3 separate regions of the Homo sapiens genome follow, and all the other regions are linked to region 2. Evidence: fine-mapped expression QTL. A gene starts in region 2. Each other region holds a variant in brackets. All regions are shown on one strand. Distances are between the middles of the regions.

Region 1 (2,767 bases), 36 kb after region 2:
TTTCTCTCATATAATTTCTCAAACAGTAGGTGACCAACTAAACATGTGTTTGCACTTCTTGTTACTTGATGCTCATGGTTCTTTGCATGTGTCTTTTAAACTAGAGCTTTAACTTCCTCTTGTGCATGGTTTGTGCAAATTGCAGTTTATTAACTTGTCTTTGTCTTTGATGCTTGCAACCTAATCCATCACAGCTACACTGCCTCGAAAAGAAAGTGCTGTCAAACAGGAAACAGAGAGTGAGTATGCTTAGTGTATTAGTAGGTATTCTCAATGCATGTTTGTTTAATGTCTAGAAATTAGTTGTCTTGAAAAAAGGTAACACCAAAAATTTTGATTGCTCTGAATTGCCAGGTATTGGTGAAAGAAAGCCAACATGATGGTAGTGATATGGCTGTATCCAAGAAATATATGATATAGTTAAAATTACTTGACGAGTAGTAGAACATTGTGTCAGAAATTTGTGAAAAGACTTAACCATTATACTTCTATTTTCAGGCTGTTTAGAAACTATAAAAAATCTTATATAGATATGGTCGGATTTTACATAATGAAGCCAAAGTTTATCTTTAATTGTACCTGTTCTGTCTTCATTTGTCTTTTCTGACCATTAGCAAATAGTACAAGTTAACTGAGAGATATTCAGGAAGGATGTTTTTAAAATATATTAGTTATTGTTTATGTTTAATTCTGAATAAAAATATCACATTTTCTTCTAAAAATCAAATCCTTTAATTCCTTGGTGTATGTGAGCTATTGCCAGCTATATGTTCTCATTTTTCCTCATGGCTATGACGGATACCAAAATTTTACCTAAACACAGATGTCCCATATTAATATGATTAGTGATGTATGTATTACATTTCGGCTGTATTTTAAATATAACGAGTTTTCAGGGTGTTTTTTCTGTTCATTTTATTTAGTTTTTAAAGGACTATAATCAGTTCACTTACTGGAAAAGCAGTTTCAGAGTTTGGAACATACTAAGTTGAATCATATGTAATTGACTTTTTTTGGTAGGGCAAAATGATCAAGTATGGGCAGTTTCATGTGGTTCAACCTAATATATTGATTTATTGTGGAGGTAACATTGAGATGCAGCAGTTTTCTTCTGAAGTATAACAAAGTCATGCTGGCTAATATGCTAACGTGGTCCTCATTGACCTTCATCCATATTCCTGTCCTTTTGAATGGAAAAGAAACCCTCATCTACTTTAGTCTAGCGATATCACCAGGCGACTTTATGAAATGGGCAGGTTATAGACAATATGCTCCTTAAGGTCCCTTTCAGTCCCGTTCTATGGATCTGTGTAGTTTCGCTTCTTTTTTCAATATGCTCAG[A/G]ATTAGGACACCAATGTTAATGGAAGATAAGGAAACTATACCACCTATCCCTTATAGAAGATTTGTGCACTAACTAATATGAGCCCTGGAAGATCAAGCCAGTAGAAGATAGAAGATCTATCCCTGCTTTATACTTTGGATCATTTATTTGTGAAGATCACAACTTTCAAAGTTTTATTATTTCTTAGGTCTTCATGGAAGTTCGGGGAAATTAACTGGATCTACTTCTAGTCTAAATAAGCTCAGTGTTCAGAGTTCAGGGAATCGCAGATCTCAGTCATCTTCCCTGTTGGATATGGGAAACATGTCTGCCTCTGATCTCGATGTTGCTGACAGGACCAAATTTGATAAGGTAAACTAAAATAACAAGTACTTCTTAAACATTAACATTAGTTTTCTAACAGCAGTTTGTGGTTGCTCTAAGTGTGTTCAAAGATTTGGGTTCTTCTGGCTCTCTTAAGCATTAACCATGTCTTTCCAACTGAATCGAATCTGGGAAAAAAAAAAAAAAAAACTAGTCAAAGGACAAGTAAAATGTGAATTATCAATGAAATGGCATAAAAGCTTTATTAAAATTTGTTATAAATCATAAAATGCTTATATCTCAAATCTAAGTTGTTTGGGCACCTAAAAAGTAAGAGGAAATAAAAGCTTTTGTGATGCTGGCCTTTCTCTGTACTAAATTAAATAAGTTTTTTTGTTTGTTTGTTTTTGAAATGGAGTCTTGCTCTGTCACCCAGGCTGGAATGCAGTGGCACAGTCTCAGCTCACTGCAACCTCCACCTTCTGGGTTCAAGCAGTTCTTCTGCCTCCCTCCCAGGTAGCTGGGATTACAGGTGCCTGCCACCACACCCAGCTAATTTTTGTATTTTTAGTGGAGATGGGGTTTCACCATGCTGGCCAGGCTGGTTTCGAACTCCTGAGCTCAAGTGATCTGCCCGCTTTGGCCTCCCAAAGTGCTGGGATTACAGGCATGAGACATCATGCCTGGCCATAAATAAGTTTTAAAAGTTGATCTTTGTGCTCCTCTTTCCAGATGTGAAGTGAATAACTGTGAGTTTTATTTTAGGTTTATTTTGTGGCCTTGTTATACCTTGCTAATACCATTGTCCTGTAGATCTTGGAAGAGTTTGTTTTTGGGATTCCATTGAGATTATAAATTCATAGATTAGTGAGATTATGGATCCATGGTCTGTGCAGAAAAGAAAATTAAATGTGGAGTGTTATTTTAAGCATTTGGTGCAGTTCTTTCGTTATAGGATCACTTTGGTTTTCTTCAGATCTTTGAACAGGTACTAAGTGAACTGGAGCCCCTATGTCTGGCAGAACAGGACTTCATAAGTAAATTTTTCAAACTACAGCAACATCAAAGTATGCCTGGAACTATGGTATGGCTCACAGTGTATTTTGGATAGTATTTATGATC
Region 2 (2,767 bases):
GATGACCAACTCAGTAACACATTCTTATACTGCATCTCCCTTTTTGTTTTGTCTTCTTCCTCTTCCCTCATTTTGCTCCCTGGGATCAAATTTCCAAATAAACTATTGCATATAAGTGTCACTTTGCAGGGAATCCAAGAGGAGAGAGGATAATTTAATTTTTGGACACACAAGTTTGAGGTGTCTATAAGACATCCAAGTGGAAATGTCAGGCGATGGGCAGTATATACACAAATCTTGAGGTTCAAGAAAGAGATCTAGGCTTCTGAAATGCAATTCATTTCCCAACTTTGAGGAGGGCTATAAACATACAGGTAAATAAAAGAAAGATAATAGGACCAAAAAACACATGCAATTGTCATAGAGTGTCCACAGTAAGCATTCCGGTGCCAAGCAGGAAAGGGTCTTTGTAAAGATATAACCAGATCCTGCTCTTAAAAGGGAAGTCATTTGATGAAAGTGAAAAGTATTCTAACTACTGTTTGCTCATTTAAATTTCTAGCACATTTATCTGATCTGTACCTCTCTTTGGTCACTTATTTTGTGTCCTATTTTATATATATTTGTACCTACACCTTGTCTAGTCCTACCACACTGTGAACTCCTTTAGGTTAAGATTCATGCCTGAATCACCTCTGTACCTGGAATCAAAGTGCCTAGCATTAAAAAAAAAAGGTGCCAGGAATATTGAATAAATAAAACACCTACCTGCAACCAGCAACATTGGCATCATTTATGCATCCCAAACTTAAATATGCATAAGCATCATCTTGCTAAGATGCAGATTCTGATTCAGTAGATCTGAAGTGAGCCAGAGAGGCTGCATTTCCTAAAAAGCCCCCAGATGATACCCAAGCAGCTGATCCACGGACCACACTTTGAGTATCAAGGTCATGAGGACAATGGTTCTTGACCTTAGCTGCATATGAGAATCATCTGGGAAGATATTAAAAGTACTGATGTCTGGGTCCCACCCGCAGGGATTCTGATTTAACTCATTTAAGCTCTCCAAAGTTTAAGTAGCAAAGATCTAGAGTTAATAGAGCTTTACGTATGAAAAAAGAAAACATTTAATCGAATTTCTTCTTAAATGAATTGCTGCAAATATCTGAATAAATAACTCTTAATCCCCAACTCCCAAGTCAGTTTCTGTGCCACAAAGGCCCCGCCCCTGCCCTTCCCTGACACGCCCCTCCAATGAGGCCTTGTTCCGCCTGGCCACGCCCGTCGGTTGGCGCCCCGCCCCTCCGCGTCTATTGGCCGCTCCCTTTTTCTCCCATCGCTGCTTCTTCCTTCTCTACGCGGTCAACTTCCGGCGCGGAGTTTGTCACGTGCCCGGATATAGGAAGTGTTGGGGGAACGGCCGCTTCCCGTTCAACGCTTTATTGAGGGGCGTATCCTAGTGGCCCCCATCCGGTCTCCGTTTTGGAAGACCCGCCTCGGCACAGCCAGGCTCAGTCCGGCCTTGCGGTAAGCCTTCGGCCGCGGCTGCCCGGTAGTCCCGGCGGCGGCGGACAGACGAGCTGACAGGCACCAGGGTCTAAGGCGGCTCCTCAGTCCGGCTGCTGTCTCCACGCCTGGGGTCGGGCACCGCTCCTTCTGACCTTCCTTTCCCCGTTTGTCCCGGTAAGACGAAGTTTGGTCAGAGCATTCTCCAGTCCCTTGTCCTCGGGTCTAGGAGAATGCGGAGCTGGGAGGGCAGTCCTCACGGGCCCCATTACGGTTCCGCCCATCGGAACCAGATTTTGTTTGTGCAAAATGACCCTGATCGTAAGCTCTTTGGCGTGGTCCAGGAGAGGAGAGCGTGACTGTGCCTTCCTCTTTGTCCAAATTCACATCCCGGCCCCCCAACCCCAACTCCCCCCCACCCCCCGCCAAATCTCTTAAGTGTATTTCTCTATTTCCTTGCACAGTTATATCTTCTAGATGGCAATGCTTCATGCATTAATATATCTCAGCAGCATACAGGGCCCAATGCACACGGGCACTCACACTGACAGGCTATTTGTCACACAGTGTGGTGGTCCAACTGAGCTGAAGGAAACAACCAGTACAGAGTAAGCAGTGGATGGCTGCCTTTGGAACGTGGTCAGATATGGGTTCTCAGACCTGGAGAATAATTTTAGAGGACCTCTAGGGATTTATTTACTGACTTTCAGAAAAGTACCGTAAAGACTGAAGAGTTAATCACTCGACTCTTAGGATGTAAATGCCATAGAAACACCCGGCTTCAGGTCTTCATAAACATATCTGTCATGTTGACTACTGTAACCTAGAATAGTGTCTGCCACCTAATAAGCATGAGTATTTGCTGAATGAATGAAGAGTCACATACTGCTTTTCATTATGGCTAACTCCTTTATGAGGTATGCCCAATCCTGTCTTGTTTTGCCTCTTACTGTACACTCAGTTGCTTTTAGCCAGAGAAGGAGTATGTGGTAAACGTTGGTCCCTATTATTCATTTGACCAGTTTTTACTATTCAGTTCTAATTACCTTAATAGATATTTAAGTATCCACTAAACACAAAACTATGATGAACATCCCTCCCTTCTTTAAGAGAATTCTTGAGATAGAGAAGCTTATGATTTAATGAGCCCATTAGACGGCAAATGCAGTAAGTGCTGTAGAAATTTAGAGGAGAGATCACTTTGGATTAAGATCTTCATTGAATCAACTTCATGTAAACCATGAAGTGTAATTAGGGTTTGGATAGGGCGGAGATGATATTCCTTACATGGAAAGTACCAAAGTGAAGATTTGATGTC
Region 3 (2,767 bases), 26 kb before region 2:
ATTTAATTTTAGCTGGCAGCAAAGCTGAAGTGTGGAAATTAGGGATTGGGTTGACTCCAGGCTAAGTAGACTTCTTTGGCTTGTGGCTAAAGACAATTCTTGGAGACTCCTTAGCTATAAAGGAAGCTGTTTTGTCAAAAGGTTAACTTTTAAAGAATGCTCTTTTACTTTCTTAGTTTGGTGTTAATGGGACAGTGACCATTAATGTAAGAAAATGTGATGACTCGTAGGACTCACCTTCTTCATGTCTCTTCTCTCCATTCCCCACCTCCAACCTATCCTTTATGGAAGATCACAAAATAAGTTTCTGAACCTTAAAAGCTCAGTCTGTCCATTCACTTTAAATCCTTCAGTGACAACTTCTCTCTCTTATACAGAGAAATGCATGGCTTTCAGAATAACCTTTGATCTTCTCAGCCTGGTATTCTAGACCCCTCAGGAACTAGTCTTGCCTAACTTGTTCCCTGCCACCTGTCCACCCTCACACCTCATGCCAGCAATACCAGATGCTTTTAATGACTTAAAAGTGTCAAGTATTTCATGCCTTTGTGTGAATGCTTTTCTAGAACTACCTTTACCCATCTTCATTCTGCTAACTTCTACTGCCATTTACAACTCAGGTTACCTCTCTCAGGAAGCTCTCCCAGACCCCCACTTGGATGAAGACATCCTTCCTCCACGTTCCTCAATTACTTTGTCTATTTCTTATTTGCAGAACTGTAAGCACAGGTTTTCTTTCTGAAGACCCCACTCCCTACAATCTCAGTGACAGCAGGAATGATGCCTTATGAGATTTAATGTTTTCAATTCCTAACACAGTGCTTGGTACAAAAAGGGCACTCGAATATTTATCAATTTAATGAGATGAATGTGTGGCCTACAAATGACCATAACATGCTTTTCATAACATGTAGATGAGGCAGTGGAATTTGCTCCATGAAAATTACATTTTTCATACCTCCCCAACCCCATTCTCTCCCACCCCCTAAGCACCATGTGAGACATCTAGCTGGAGCAAGAACATAGTCCTTTGGTTCTGGGGTACAGCTTCTTTCTGGGCATACAACTGCCTCCTGGTGGAGGAAAATGTCTCCAAGATCTTGTCCTTAGTAAGCATGACAGATTCAAGTGTGCCTCCACTTCACCACCTCTGCCTAACAGCTTCACTTTTAATCCTTTCGTCTTCCCAAGACTAACATCTACACCAGTGGAGA[C/T]GGAAACTTTTTAGTGCTAGAGAAGGATAGGTGGGCAGAAGCCCACCAACTTTGGTACACTGTCAGAGGGATCACAGACTCTAAACTAGCTCATTGACCCCAAGTTAAGATCTTCTGCTTGAGGTCCTCTCCAGAAGATGTGCCTTAGTCACTCTCTCTGCCTCCAAAACGTATAATCCCTCCTCTTCCAAACTCCTGGAATATGTGATCTCCATCATAGCCTTTAGTCTTCCTTCCTATTACCTTTGTAAATCCTACCTAACCTTGAGGCTGGCACACAATGTGCACTCAAATAGTGTTAGTGCATGAAGGAGTCCTCTGCAAGTTGTCTTCTGCCCTCAGCATTCTAGAGAAACTGCCCTCATGGAGGAAATTCACGATCTTCTTCCAAGTCAGATTCAGTGCTAGGGCTGAACTCTGCCTTACCTAATAAAGGGACTTAACGGGATTGTCTCCAAACCTTTAAACTTCACCATCCTCTTGATTCCCATAGCATTACACAGCTGGGCCTGTCTCTCAGACCCCTTCTCAGACGTCTTTCCTGGCATCTATTTTTCTTCTCACTTTCTCTCACCTCTTTCCTCTGCTCTTTTCTCTACAAATGTGGTTTGGGGGCCAGGCATGGTGACTCTCACCTATAATCCCAACATTTTGAGAGGCCGAGGCAGGAGCATGGCTTGAGGCCAGGAGTTTGAGACCACTATCACTATCACTGGGTAATACAGTGAGACCCGTCTCTACAAAAAAGATAAAAAAAATTAGCCAGGCATAGTGGTGCATTCCTGTAGTCCCAGCTACTCAGGAGGCTGAGGTGGAAGTATGCTTGAGCCCAGGAGGTTGAGGCTGCAGTGAGCCATGATCATGCCACTGTACTCCAGCTTGGGTAACAGAGTGAGACCCTCTTTCAAAATGAAAAACAAACAAACAAACAAACAAACAAATGACGACAACAAAAAACTGGCCTTGGAAACCTTTCCACAGGAAAAAACCCAAGTATCTCCATTCCTAAACTACAAAACTTCCATCTCATTCTCTTTTGAGATAATTTGTGGCTACTTCAACTGTGTGTCAAAAACAAAACTCATTTTTCCACCCAACCAACTCACCCTCTCTACTTTCCTATTTGGGTTTGTATTCAGTGTTTGGTTTTCATCCAGTGTTGTTTCCATCCAGTGCTATTTTAAATCTTACTTGGATTTTCCACGTCTTTATCCATGACCCACATCCCATGCCCAGGTTACTACAACAGCCTCTTAAAACAAACAAAACAAAACAAAACATTTTTAACAGTTACTGTAAACCAGGCACTATCCTAAGTTCTTTATATATTTTGTCTACTTTAGTCTTTACACCCTATGAATTTGGATCATTCTGATGTCTATTTTACAACATAAGAAAAGTGAGGTTTAATCTCTCTAGAGATTAAATCATTTACTTAGACCACACTGTTGAGAGGTGGTGTCATGATTTAACTCCAGAATGTCCAGTGCCAGAACTCATTAAGCTGCATTGCATTTTCCAGGGTCCTCCAGTTCCTCTTTCATTTCTTCTTC

Direction of the effects. Positions count from the first base shown, and alleles are read on the strand shown. Sizes are in standard deviations (SD) of each study's normalised expression. Not every link is listed here.
For the expression in transverse colon of the gene that starts at base 1,321 in region 2, C is the low allele of the variant in region 3 and T is the other (small effect, 0.17 SD a copy in GTEx).

The links.
Region 1: its variant is fine-mapped to the expression of EXOC1 in nasal epithelium (TOPMed, PIP above 0.99).
Region 3: its variant is fine-mapped to the expression of EXOC1 in transverse colon (GTEx, PIP 0.98).

What each region holds. Positions count from the first base shown.
Region 1 is chr4:55,888,694-55,891,460 of GRCh38, forward strand. EXOC1 (exocyst complex component 1) reads left to right here. Exons shown (of 19, transcript NM_001024924.2): 11 at 195-239; 12 at 1,530-1,693; 13 at 2,622-2,729. EXOC1-AS1 (EXOC1 antisense RNA 1) reads right to left here. Exons shown (of 5, transcript XR_941069.4): 5 at 899-1,833. Among named protein-coding and RNA genes, the nearest start is that of EXOC1, 36 kb to the left of the region's middle. The variant A/G (reference allele first, on the strand shown) is at 1,342.
Region 2 is chr4:55,852,328-55,855,094 of GRCh38, forward strand. It overlaps EXOC1 (exocyst complex component 1), which reads left to right and starts at 1,321. Exons shown (of 19, transcript NM_001024924.2): 1 at 1,321-1,626. RefSeq lists a silencer at 1,113-1,212.
Region 3 is chr4:55,826,723-55,829,489 of GRCh38, forward strand. The region is part of intron 1 of EXOC1L (exocyst complex component 1 like); the gene reads left to right. Among named protein-coding and RNA genes, the nearest start is that of EXOC1L, 8.3 kb to the left of the region's middle. The variant C/T (reference allele first, on the strand shown) is at 1,215.